Linked DNA regions of Homo sapiens. The protein of the gene in region 1 purifies or fractionates together with the protein of each later gene. This does not show direct contact. Each region holds a gene or a part of one and is shown in the gene's direction. Other genes may lie near its edges.

Region 1 (6,905 bases):
CGGCTCACTGCAACCTCTGCCTCCTGGGTTCAAGTGATTCTCCTTCTTTAGCCTCCTGAGTAGCTGGGATTACAGGGGCCCACCACTGCACTAGGCTAATTTTTGTATTTTTAGTAGAGACAGGGTTTCATCACATTGGCCAGGCTGGTCTCAAACTCCTGACCTCAAGTGATCTGCCCGCCTCTGCCTCCCAAAGGAACAATGTTGTTTCTAACAAAATACACCACCTTTCCTGGCCTTCCCACCTAAATGGGTTCCTGGAAATTGTTCTTGGCCAGTATGGGTTGGTGAGGGGCTAGCCAGGGAGCAGAGTCATGTTCGCAAAAGGTGGGCACTCATGAGAGTGGAAGAAGGGAAGTAAGTTCCTATGTCTAGAATAACACTCTCCTAGAAAACATTACATCTGGGGGATTTTTCATTTCTGTGCTTCTTATTTTCACTCGCCTATACTCTTGCACAGGATTGATTTCCAATGAAATTTGATAAGTGATATTTTGTTAAAATGTCCTGATTTTTTTTAATTATTAAATAGCTATAATCCCAGGCCTGAAAAATCCCTTATCCAGTAGCTACAGTTGTTTTTTGAAGCACCGCCACCAAAATTATTCCCCTGGTAATTATTGAGCAATCCGTTTTCACCCATAAGCCTGTCACATGTAATAAGGATGCCTGCCTGCCTGTTTATTTTCTGGCTAATTTGGTCCCTTTACATCATGTGACCTTCAGTGGCCTGTATGCAATATGAAAATCGTCCTCCTAGGACTTTCTTTAGAAGGTTCACAGAGGTGTGCTAAGCATAAGTAATACATCAGTTTTTAAATCCAGGCAGAGCGAACCCATATCAGATGTCTCAGGAAAGCCTGCAATGCTGTTTTATAAAGGGAACAGAAGAGTTTCTTGATCTTTGCTATTCTCTGCAAGAAAATATCTCACCTAAGTACATCCTTTCGTATGCACTCTGTAGCAGGACATTTACAGGGTCAGAGAAAAAGACACTAAAAACTTACCCAAGCTGTTAGCTCATATTTATTAACTGCTTAATATAGGCCAGGGTGCAAAGGCCTTTATATGCTTTGTTTAATCTTCCCCCAAACCCTGGGAGATTTTTATCCCAGTTCTGCAGATTAGCAGACTGAAACACAGAGAAGTTGTAACTTACCCAAGGTCACCTGGCTGTGGATGCCAGAGTAAGCATTTATTTTAATTGATACATAATAATCATACATATATAGGTACATAGTGATATTTTGATACATACAATACATAGTGATCCCATCAGGGTAATTAGCATATTTGTCATTTCAAACTTGTATCATTTCTTTGTTTTGGGGCATTCAATATCTTCTCTTCTAGGTATATGAAAATATACAATACATTATTGTAACTATAGTCATCCTATAGTGCTATAGAACACTAGAACTTATTCCTTCTATCCAGCTGTAATTTTGTATCCTTTAATAAATATTTTATCCTCTCTCCCCCGTACACTTCCCAGCCTCTAGTATTCTCTGTTCTACTTTTTACTTCTTTGAGATCAGCTTTTTTAGCTTCTGTGTATGAGTGAGAACATGCGGTGTTTAACTTTCTGTTCCTGGCTTATTTCACTTAACATAATGTCCTCCAGGCTCATTCCTGTTGCTGAGAATGACAGAATTTCATTCTTACTTATGGATGAATGGGATTCCTTTATGTATATATACCACATTTTCTTTATCCATTCATCTGTTGTTGAATACTTGGGTTGATCCATATCTTGGCTATTGTGAACAATGTGGCAATAAACATGGTGGTAGATATCTCTTTGACATACTGATTTCCGTTCCTTTGCATAAACGCCCAGTCATGGGAATACTGGATCTTATAATAGTTCAGTTTGTAGTTTTTTTCAGGTACCTCTGTACTGTTCTCCATAGTGGCTGTACTAGAATGCATTCCCACCAACAGTGTATACGAGTTCCCTTTTCTCTGCATCCTTGCCAGCATTTGTTATTTTTTGTGTTTTTGATAATACCCAGAGTATGCTTTTGAAGTCAGGTCTTTCTGGCTCCACAGTCTGAAGGTGTAACACTACCCCAGGCTGCCTCTCCATAGCATGTTTCCTGATTTCTGGTTCAAGAAGACTTTTTCTAACAGGTGTCATTCCTAGATGGCTCTCTTAAGATCTTACTCCCTTTGGCATTTTACACCTTACTCATACAATCATTTTTAAAAAATAGCAATTTAAAAAAATACAGTTCAAGTGTTCATCATATCCAGGCATGCAAGCCTTTTCTAAATTTTTTTAAATAATAAAAAAGCCCCACAGAGGAAAGGAGGTTATTTGTGTCCTCCTGACACACACTTTTAGATTTTGGTTAAAAAGTCTCTAGTGGGTGCAAAGTGACCCCCTTTGTCACTGGAAACAAATAGGAGCATTCTTTGTGCCACTGTCCACAACCACACAGATATGTTTCCCAAGGGAGCTCATCAGGTCTTCAAACATTTAGCAAGCATGACATGTGTAAGAGACAGTATTGGAGAAGTAAGACAAGCCTTGCTCTGCCGAAGCTTACAATCCAGGAGCTCACCCCTTCAAGGAATTTACAGCCTCCAGACAGATAATAACATTAGGTCCATGAAAGCCTACAAGGCAAGAAGTTCAGGAGAGAAAGAAGTCATAACCATCTTGGAAGAATCTCAACTTGTTTTATCAGAACTCAAACGCCAATTTCTCACCCCTAGCTTCCCTCATTAGTGCTTATTAACTAGTATTGGGAGGACCAAGCGAAGAGTAAAGCTAGGGTAGCAGAGGCCATAAGCTAATTGCAAAGGACAGAGCTAAAGAAACATGCTAGTTTCCCCTGAGCACCCAACTGCATGACTGAAAATGGATTAATTTGTATTTCTAATGGATATACAAGAAACACGTGAATATGCTAAAATAAATTTAAGGTCAAGCAATGCAAAGTGTTAGTGCGTTTGCCTTCCACTCTCAGAGGCAGCCTCTATTATTTGGTTCTTGGGCTGCTTCATAAAAAGTTCTGTGTTTTTTAATGGCCTCAGCTTTTGGGAGGCTCAGGCCACCTAGCCCATCAGGAGACCAGGCCCGAAGGATGGATCTGAAGAGTGGGCAACGGAGAGTTAAACCAGGGCTGACTTCAACAGGCCCAGTCAAGTCAGGGGCAAGCACATTGTCCATCCACTGGAAGACGGAAAGGGGAGAGGAAGGCAGGCCCTCCCGACTCACAGGTCACCTCGCAACTTTGCTAGGCACTACCCACCCTTTAGGGATAAGTGAAGTATGTGGTGGGCATACAAGGCGCACAGGGGAGTCATTCTGGCAAATTCCAAGAAGGTTTTAAGGGCTCCCGAGGCAGGCAGGCCCAGTTGCTGTTTGGAGCTTCCTTTGGGGTGGGAGGATGGCGGGGGCAGGGGGCCGGGGCGGTGCCTTAACGAGGGGAGATGCTTTTAAATAGCTGCCTTCCAAAAACCATCCTCCCTGCTTCTTTGAGAAGCACCCAGCTGTTGTTTACCCTCCAGGACAGCAAATCCGGTTATTTGTCTCTCTATTCCGTGATATTATAAAGTAATGAATGGTCCATTAAACTAAGTTTGGGATCCCGTCTCCCCACAGCCACCTCCTCGCCGGCACCCTCAGCCGGGGAGGCCGTAGGCTCGGGCTGCAGCCTGGCAGCCTCAGTCCCCCTCCCTCCACCATTTCCCTCTACTCCCTCCCTCTCCTGCACCCCCTCCCCCCGGTTATTTGGGAGATTAGAGTTCATTAATTAAATCCTGTGCTTAGATCGAACTGTAACATTATTCCAATCACATTTATCTTGCAGGCGGCGGAGGAGATGGCAGCCTCGCTGGAAACGCGCGGGGGAGCCTGAGCCGGCGGCCGGGGACGCACGGCGCTGCGCGCTCCTTCGCCACGCCGCCGCGCAGCCCCTCCATCTTCCTGCTCGGCACCGGGCCCCGCGCGCCCCTGCCTACGGGGTCCCGCTGCTCTCCGGGGCTCCTGCCAGCCCCAACCCCCGGCCCCGGTGGCCTCCCCCCACCCCCGCCCGGGTCCCCCTCCTCCGCCACACGCGCGCGCGCTCACACACACACACACACACACACACACACACACACACATATATACACGCCAGCGAGCTGCTGGCCGCTCAATGGACCGATTTCCCCGGTTTCCCTGAACCCAGCCCAGCCCGGGATGAGAAACTGCAAAATGGCCCGGGTCGCCAGTGTGCTGGGGCTGGTCATGCTCAGCGTCGCCCTGCTGATTTTATCGCTCATCAGCTACGTGTCCCTGAAAAAGGAGAACATCTTCACCACTCCCAAGTACGCCAGCCCGGGGGCGCCCCGAATGTACATGTTCCACGCGGGATTCCGGTGAGTGCGGGCCTCTGTGTTAGTGCCCTCGGGAATTTGGTTGATGGGGTGTTTGGGGAAGGGAAGGCGTGGGGGAGGGGTGTTTTGGCCTCTCCGAGACTCTTTGGGCCAGATAACTGCGCGGTCCTTCCACTCCTCTCTCTAATTCTCCCTTCCCCCTCCCTGTTATTTTTTTTTTAACCCAAAGCCCCTAGAAGCCGCTGTCCAAATCGATGTGATTGCATTTCTCGTATTCTTCCTCAGCATCCCTTCCCTCATTTCAGAAATGGGGGTTGGGGGAGGCTTTCAGGAGGGTGAGGGTGGAGGGAAAGACGGTGTGTTTGTTCGGGAGGGGGCGGCGAGCAGAGATGGACAGGCGTGAGGGGAGCGCCCTCCCCGCGCCCTGTCCGCAGACTCCGCGGGCCGGGCCCGGGGCGGTGCTGGCGGTTTAATGGCGCAGGCGCCGGACTCCCCTCGCGCCCTCCTCCTTTACTCCCCCACGCCTATCAAAGGACACGCGGGTTTATTCTCAGGAAGCCCCTGGGGCGTTCTCTCTCAACCCTTTCCCCCGCAGCCACCGCCCCCCACCAGCTTTCCGGGATTTCTGCAATTCCCCCGCCCCCTGCGGGAAGCGAGCCTCGGAAGGGCCGCCCACCCTCGCCAGGTCGGAGTCACCGCTCCGCGCTGGGCCGGCCTGTGAAGGCTCCAGGCGCAGCTTGACGCCGCTCTGCGAGAGCCCCCGCCCCGCTCTGTGACCCCGGGAACTCTCCCAGCAGGGCCTCCTGACGGGCAGGTGGCAACTACAAAGTGCCACCTGTGGTCCAAGCTGGGACCGAGGCGAGGAACCCAGAGGAGCCTCGCCTGGACCGAGGAGCGGAGTAGGCCGGCGGCCCCCGGGGGTCCCCAGCCAAGTTATAGGAAGTGAAATCGGACGTGGGTTTGGGAAGGAAGAGGTTAAGGCAGGAACCACCCCCAGACTTTCCCTGGGTCTCCGGTTTCCTCTGCCCTTTCTCCAAAAACAATTCTATGGGGCTGCAAAGGCGTAGCGGGTCAGGCTGGCGGGGCGGCCGCTGTCCGCGGTGCTGATTCCCTGGTCCTCGCAGCGCCGCGGGCTCCAGCCCTGCGCCCGGCGTGCGCCCTGCTCTCCGCATGACGGCCATTTTATGGTCTCTCCGGCACCCGGAGGGATGGACAATGCAGATGGGGTTCCCTAGTTTTCTTTTTTTCTCTCGGGTGTGTGTGGGAGCAGAGGGTGGACCAAATGAGAGGGGCTCCGGGACGGAACGGAGCCCGCACGCGTACCAGCCGCCCTCGCCCCAGCCGCTGCACTTTAATGGCTACCTCGGCTTCCCCGAGCTGAGGCCAGCACGCTTGTCTGTGCTCATGCTCCTCTCCAGGTCACAATTTGCGCTGAAGTTTCTAGACCCGTCATTCGTGCCCATTACGAATTCTCTCACCCAGGAACTCCAAGAGAAACCTTCTAAGTGGAAATTTAATCGGACAGCGTTTTTACATCAAAGGTAGGATAGGAGGAAAAGATCCAAAAGGTGCTTTTAAGAATTCAAGAGCTCAAAACAAAACAAAACAAAAACAAGCAAACAAAAACATCTAAAACAACAAACATCTATACGCCCCACCCTCACCATCAGGTGTATCTGCATTGTTTTCTTGGCATGACTGCACAAAGCAATGATCAGGAACCTTCTCCTGTGTGTGTAGTGTCCTCTCATAAAAAGGACATATCAGGACCAATTTGAATAGCAAAAAAAAAAAAAAGCATTCCACTTGGGCTTGATTGAGCACCATGATTTACAGCTAACAAGTCTGGCAAGTACTGCCAAAGCCATCTATTTAAAAAAAAAAAACAGACAAAAGGTTAGTTGCAAAAAGACCACCCAATGCATTTTCATTTCCTCACTGAAAAAAACTTGAAAAATAGAATAAAGTGGTATTGTTTCTTTGAAACACACGGAAAATGCCATAATCTGTCTCCATCAAATTACTCGTGAAAATGCTGGCCCAAATGTATGTAGATATTTAACTATGGTTTTGTTTTGGTTTTGCCTGTTTTCATTGTCTTTACAGCTTTTAACTTACTGTAAAGGTACCTAACTTAATTCCTACTAATTGTAGCGGTTTCATTTTATACACATAAGATGGTTTTGAGGTTTTGTTTTTTTAGGTGGAAGAAGGATGAGATTTGTTCAAATGTATTTATTCTGCTCAGTGATTCTGGTCTACTCTTAGCAAACCACGATAACTCATTACTCCTTCCTTCATGGTGGGATTATTTTACTGCTAAATGGGATGTGAGCCATCTAGCGTATTCATTAGAAGTGTGAATACTTATTTTACAAACCACTCTATTTAGGGAGTTGTGTTTTGATCTTAGCATTTCTAGTTATTGCTCTCTCTCTCTTTTAAAAGTTTAATCTATGGGCAGAATTAAAACAAATTCAGTGGGTATTCATGGTCTCATGAAAATACTGTTCAGATGAAAAGTCAGCATACAGTCATATGATTAACATTTTAAAAACACTTATGTTTAATTATAA
Region 2 (7,026 bases), on another chromosome or scaffold:
ATTGGAGAAGACCAGAGTGGGAGTTGGGACATTATAGGAGGCAATGCAGGGGGTGCAGATGGGAGATGATGATGGCTGGATTAGCCCCAGAAATTTATGGACAGACCAATCCCCTTTATCTTGTGGGCTCAGCCCAGGGCAGGCAAGTTGCCTCTTTGACCTGGAAGTGTCTTCAGTGTACATCCATCCACGTGCCTTTCCCCTAATCATTCCAGCTCTGACAGGGAGTGCTCCAAGGTCTGACCCTGTTTGAGGTTTCTAGTTAAAACACCTTGTGTTTGTACAGTCTCTGCATCTCCACATGCCTTTCTTGTTTATCATCTTGCCTACACTTTCTAACAACCCTGTGAGGTAAGGTGGGCCAGGGACTGATAAGGAAACCAAGACTCAAAGAGGCTAAATAGCTTGCCCAAAGTCATTCAACTAGGAGGTGACAGAGCCAGGATCTGAACCCACGTTTTCTCAATTCAAATTCTCTGCTCTTACCACATTTACACAAAGACCCATTTTCTTCTAATGGGATCAGTTTATGCTAATCCTGTCTAGGGGACTATTTTCTGTCCCTTCCCTGTTGCTGTTCCAGGATAATCAGCAAAGATTTAGGTAGAGGTCATTCTCTGGAAGATTGAAAGGAGAGAACCAGTGATTTTGAAGAAGGGGAACAACGTGGAGGATCTTTTTTATCCATAGCTCAGTTTGCAAGTATGAAATGCACATTGACTATAGACCCTGCCTTGCCTGACATCATTTATTCATGCATTCTCCACTCAATCATTTGTTCCACACATCTGATGTGCCAGGCACACACTGGGAATGGGACATAGAGACAGGAACAAAATAGATGGGGTCTCTGACATCGTAGAACTTTCAGGCTACTGAGCAAGATAGATAATAAACAAATGCAAGTACTGGATAAACTAGAATGTGCACATGAAGGAAAAGAACAGGGTGCTCTGAGGGAAACCAATTTAGTGAGGATTGAAAATTTGGGAACAGCTTTTCTGTGGATATGACACTTGAGCTTGGGGGTAAGAAAATGTTAGTCTGGGGGTGACTGAAGGGAAAAGCATTTGGGGTAATGGGAACAGCATGTGGGAAGGATCCAAGGCAGTAAAGAGCAGTTATTTGGGAAGTAAAGACCTGATACTGATGCCAGGAAGGTTTCCTTCTACTTGGCAAAACAATTACTAGGAAATAATTCAATGTTTAGCTCAGTTCCCCTGTTCTCAGTGTCCCTGATAGGGTCAGTGGGGACTAGTGTCATCGACAGGGATGTGCAGACACACATTCTGAGAGTCCTTGGTTAGAGCTGTAAGCACAAATAGTTAATGGCCATTGGATACTTAAATATGCCAGGCACCATCCTGTGAGCTCTTAGTAACTAACAGAATCCTTGCAACAGCCCTCAAGAGGTAGGCACCTCTATTAGCTCCCCTTTAGATCTAAGGAAACTGAGGCAAAGAGCAATTAAATAATTTGCCCAAGGCCCTCTGACTAGTAAGTGGCAGAGTGAACATGAACACAGGCAGTCTAGCTCTGAGTCCAGGCTCTTAACCACAGTGCTGTACACATTCACCATGCAAAGAAATTAGTGCTGACTTAGTATTTGACAGTTGGGCTCTTTTGCAGCTCCCTTCTTATAGCGGGTGGTCCCTGGTTAGCAGGTGTCAGCCATGACCTCTTGTATCTTCCTCTCCTCTCTGCAGATGCTCCCTGCTCCAACATGCTGGGGATGCTCTCAGGCCTCATTGCAGACTCCCAGATCTCCGCCTCTTCCACCCAGGAATACCTCTGGAGCCCCAGTGCAGCCCGCCTGGTTAGCAGCCGCTCGGGCTGGTTCCCTCGAATCCCTCAGGCCCAGCCCGGTGAGGAGTGGCTTCAGGTAGATCTGGGAACACCCAAGACAGTGAAAGGTGTCATCATCCAGGGAGCCCGCGGAGGAGACAGTATCACTGCTGTGGAAGCCAGAGCATTTGTGCGCAAGTTCAAAGTCTCCTACAGCCTAAACGGCAAGGACTGGGAATACATTCAGGACCCCAGGACCCAGCAGCCAAAGGTAGGCTGTTCTTGGAGGCCTCTGTAACGTTACCCTCAACAGGGAGGCTAAGTGTGGTACAGGGAGTTGAGACTGATGATGTCCCATCTAAACAGTCGTCATCCAACTCCTGAAATCCAATAAAACAAATATCGTTTGAGAGATTACTTTGTGCCAGGCACTGTGCTAAATACCTTATTTCTGACTCTTTTGTTTGTTTGTTTGTTTGTTTTTGAGATGGAGTCTCTGTCACCCAGGCTGGAGTGCAGTGGCCTGTTCTCGGCTCACTGCAACCTCCGCCTCCAGGGTTCAAGCGATTCTCCAGCCTCAGCCTCCTGAGTGGCTGGGATTACAGGTGCCCGCCACCACACCTAGCTAATTTTTGTATTTCTGGTAGAGATGGGGTTTCACCGTATTGGTCAGGCTGGTCTCGAACTCCTGACCTCAAGTGATCCACTTGCCTTGGCCTCTCAAAGTGCTGGGATTATAGGCATGAACCACCGCGCCCGGCCTGGACTCTTTTTTAATCGTTACAACATCTGTGCAAAGTAGATCTTTTTGTCACTCCCATTTTAGAGATGATAAACTGACACTTGATATCATGCCCAGGGTCACACAGTTCACCTGTGATAGAGCCGATTCAGAAACCGGAAGTCTGACTCCAAAGTCCAGATGCCTAACCCCTACTGAACACTGCCTTTTTATAAAGTTCAACACTCTTTATACACTCTTTCAGATAAAGTTTCCTTGAAATTGGCCAGACATCTAAAGGGGATGTGGTTTTTGGAGGCCAAGCTATAGAAACTAGAGGATGACTTCCAAAAATAACGATGTTTTTCTGAATGTCGCTGCATTCCTTTGTATTCTCCTAGTTTTGACTGCTTAGATCTTTCCGGCCTCTCAGACTGAGGCAAGGGAGAAGCAAGAGAAACTCACCCCGAGCCAGAAGCTCAGGCCAGTACAGCTTACTCCCCTGCCACCAGAGTGAAGGTCAGCCTTCAACACAGACACAAGGAGCCCCAGAAGGGGAGGAGACGTCATACCTCTGTCCCTCCCCAGATCAGTCTCCTGGCAGGCCAGGCTCTCTGATTCTTATCTCTAGTTACCCCTTGTTTTTCTCAAAAGAACAGGTCCCTAAAAAAGGAGGGAGTTTGCATGTCTCGGGGCCACCTTTGCTAAGCAAATGTCTCCATTCTGAATACAGAGGCAAGAGTTGGGTTGGAGGTTTTGCGATGCTGAGGTAAACTCCCAGCTCTCAACTCCAGAGGCTTAGAAAGGCTCAGGGCTTGGTAACTGGAACCTTGCATCGATGGAGCAGAAGTTGGACCGCAGGCTTCCCCATGGAGAGCTGAGCCTGGTTTTTCTTGGGAAAGAAGTTGATCTTTGCCATTGTGGGAGACAGCCCTATCCGAGACAGTGCTTCTGGTTCAGAATTGTGGACGCAGGGCATCCTGAAAACTGGAGCGGTCCTGCTGAATTTCTGGGGGCTAATCAGCTGCAGGCCCTGGCCACCCACTCCTGTCCTTCCCCCGGATGAGTGTCTCCAAGTGTACTCTAGGCTGGTCCTCCAAAGCAGCCCCCTGCTCCCCGCATCATCAGTTTTATGTACTGGGGCTCCATGTGAGGTTTCTTTTGACAGGAGTGCTTTCCCTAAACAAAGGTTTGGGAAACAGTCTAAGACTATCGATGTGTGACCAGAAGACAGTGTCATTGGCCTAGGGGTCATTTTCCCGTAAGGTTCTCAGTGAGCTAGGAACTATCAGTCAGCTTGGGTTACCTCAATGGAGGCTTTCACACATTAGAAAAAGAAGTGTTCCTTTCCCTGTAGACCAGGAATTCAGAACGGTCAAAGATCGCCCAAACTGCCTTCCCCCCTCTCTAGCCAAAGTCAGCTGAAAACGCAGTTGGAGCCAAATTCTTCCCCAGATACTCCATTTTAGTCACCAGGTAAAAGACACAACCTGGAAATTGCCACCTTTGTTTACTTCCTATTTTCCATAATTCTGGGTCCATAACCACCTTCCAAATGAATAAAATCCTTGGTCTGAAAATGAAGCTCGCGTGGATCAGAATGTCCCAGTGACCAGGAATCAACTAGGAAGCTGCCTTCCTAGCAGGACGTGCGGGGCAGGGAGGAGAAGGGGAAGGAAAGGGAAGAAGGTGATAGGGACTGGGTCCCACACCAGAAGGGCTGAGTGGCCTCTCTCCCTGCAGCTGTTCGAAGGGAACATGCACTATGACACCCCTGACATCCGAAGGTTTGACCCCATTCCGGCACAGTATGTGCGGGTATACCCGGAGAGGTGGTCGCCGGCGGGGATTGGGATGCGGCTGGAGGTGCTGGGCTGTGACTGGACAGGTAAGATGACATTTCCTCCTCTTTGCATCTCACCCACATGGTCCTCTGACCCTGGCATCCCACGAGGCCCTGGGAGGGCTGTGGAGGGGGCAGCCATCCCAGGAGCTGGAAATGCTGCAGACCCCTGCCATGTTCTCCTGCCTCAGACCACGGGTACTGCAGCCTCTGGACTTGGGACAGTTTCTCAAGGGATGTACTTTGTCTTTTTTAAGGGATCATTTCAGTTCTCCAACCCGAGTCTCTCAAAAACAAATCATAACCACACACCACCCACCCAAATTCAATTAGACCCTGGCTCTTCAGGCCAGAGGGCTGTGGCTGTTGATTTAGGGAAGAAAAAAACCCCTCATGATAATAAAGTAATCGGTTTATGTCTGAATCTGGCCTCCAGATGTCAGTGGCTAAGAGACTTCATTTTCATTTCGGAGCCACATCTGTAAAAGGCATTTATTTGCTCAGGAGGGACCCTGTTGCAGGGAGCTGATGGGGGCAGGACTCCTTCTCATTGTCCTGCTCATTCCTGCCAGGTGGCCCAGGCCTTGGGGAACACCTCTCATCATTCCAAATGAGGGTGAGGCCCACGGAGGGTGCCCAGCCTTCCTGGTTTCCGAGGGAGGGCCCTGCCCTTCTGAGTCAGGCCCTACCTTCCTTTCCTTGGGTCGCCAGCCCTCCTCCCTCAGCAGAGCTGGCACCAGATCTTACCCAGAGCTCACTCACTGCCTGCCAAAAGGAGTTTGTGGGAGCCACTGGGGCTCAGGGACTGAGCCTGATGCCAGCAGGAGCAGCCACCAGCCTGAGCTATCCTGCCCTCCTCCGCCAGAGCCCCAGGTATCCCCATTTTCCTGTCTGTGCCGTACCTGTCACGGGCTCAGCCGGCAGGATGGCATGAGGGATTAATAAGGGCATGTCGGAGAAGTGCTTTTGGCTCCCAGGGAGAAAAATGCTGCCTGTATGCTGGCTACAGCAGCGCAGAGGAGCCCTGTTGAGGCACACGGGCTGGGAATTGGGCCCAAATTAGCCTCCTCACTTTTGAATTGAAGGCAGCCCCAGCGAACACATCTTCATAGGAAGACACTTAACTCCCCATTACCTGGGGATGAGGCCAAAGTTCCCTGCAGCCTGCTAAACGTGTGTCACCCGTCCTCTCACAGGTGCAGAAAACCTCCCCCCGATACAAGCTGGCTTCATTTATGTGCCCTGGAATCAGGGGCTCAGCGCTGTAGGGGATCCAGGAGCTTGTAAGCCAGTGGCTTTCACACACTTCTGCCCATGATACACAATTTAAAATAATTTTCCTTCACAACCCGCTTCACTTATAAGCACTCACACACAGTGGTGTATACGGGGTACAGTGTATGGGTAAGTGCTTGGACTCTGGAGACAGATTGCCAAGTTCAAGTCCTGCCCCTGCCATTGGCTGGCTGCATAACCTCAGAAAAGTTAGTCTCTCAGCGCCTTGGTTATCTTAGCTGAAAAATGGAGAGGACAATAGTCTGTCTACCCCATAGGGTCATTGTGAGGATTAAATGAATGAATGGATGTGAAATACTTAGACTACTGCCTGCACCCAGCAAACCTGTTATGATAAATAACTGTAACTGAAACAAAAGGTTCCCAAAGCAATGGTCATCTTAACCATGGAAGTGCACTCCAAAATATTATAGTCGGTATGTTTTAAAAGCTGGTCATGACCTATTCGACGGATTCCACAACCCAATGATGAGAGTGATGCGTGGTTTGGGAAATATCACAGACCTGGGCCAATTCCTCTTTCATAGACAAGGAAACAGCCCCAGAAGGTAGAAGTCACTTGCCAGAGGTCACTCAGCTGGATGAAGTCCACCTCATTCTTCCCCCCATCCCTTGCCCTTCAGTGCCATGCCCTCCCAGTCTGGCCAGTGGGACAGTTGCTAATGACCTCTTTCCTTCATTGCTCCCCAATCCCAACATGCCCCAAATTACACTGGTGATGGTCAGTGACAGGTTTCTTATTTCAAAGCCCTGCCTGGCCATTCCTTGGAAGATCAGAGTTGAGGAGCGTTCCCCTCTGCCCAGCCTCCTTTCCTTTGAAGTCTCTGACATCTGGTTTCAATTTCAGGGGTAGCGTTGCTGTTTGATGGGCAGTTACCTTGGAGCACCCAGTACAAACATAGTACAAACAGTATAAACACCGAGGCCTCGGTGCCCGCCGTTCCTCCACTTTCATTTACACGCCCTGCCCTCCGGTGCCTCATTGGCCCCTGGGTTTAACATTCTTTACACCAATCAGCTGACCCATTTTGCTACCTAACATTTCCAGAAACTGTTCTCCATAGGTCACGTGGCTATGTTTGCTTTTCGAATTTCCATCTGTTTCTCACACTCATCTTCGGTTCACTTCTTCATCCCTATCCCAAAGGATAACAGGAAAAATAATGGGCTGGGCTGAGCTGCTGCAGCTAAATACTTTGACAGGGCTGCTTCACCTGTTAGTTGGTTTGTGTTTCAAATAATTATGTTTTGCCTTACTGCCCCATAGTTTGCTTTACAATCGAGTTTCTATGACACAGTGACAAACTTGAACTTACAAATTAGGACACTTCGAGGTTATTTGCTATTTACTGTGAGCAAAAGGCAGACACAGCAAAGGGAA

The links. The genes of interacting proteins can lie anywhere in the genome.
Region 2: the proteins of ST8SIA3 (region 1) and NRP2 purify together in Homo sapiens (affinity purification with mass spectrometry; 2 studies listed by BioGRID and IntAct, with this or other methods). This does not show direct contact.

The regions. Positions count from the first base shown.
Region 1 is NC_000018.10:57,348,655-57,355,559, forward strand, and holds the start of ST8SIA3 (alpha-N-acetylneuraminate alpha-2,8-sialyltransferase ST8SIA3), read left to right. Parts: upstream 1-3,902; 5' UTR 3,903-4,192; coding exon 4,193-4,371; intron 4,372-5,747; coding exon 5,748-5,870; intron 5,871-6,905. UniProt on the Homo sapiens protein: Catalyzes the transfer of sialic acid from a CMP-linked sialic acid donor onto a terminal alpha-2,3-, alpha-2,6-, or alpha-2,8-linked sialic acid of an acceptor, such as N-linked oligosaccharides of glycoproteins and glycolipids through alpha-2,8-linkages.
Region 2 is NC_000002.12:205,741,497-205,748,522, forward strand, and holds part of NRP2 (neuropilin-2 isoform 2 precursor), read left to right. Parts: intron 1-1,706; coding exon 1,707-2,056; coding exon of another isoform or gene 2,057-2,083; exon of another isoform or gene 2,084-2,202; intron 2,203-4,249; coding exon 4,250-4,394; intron 4,395-7,026.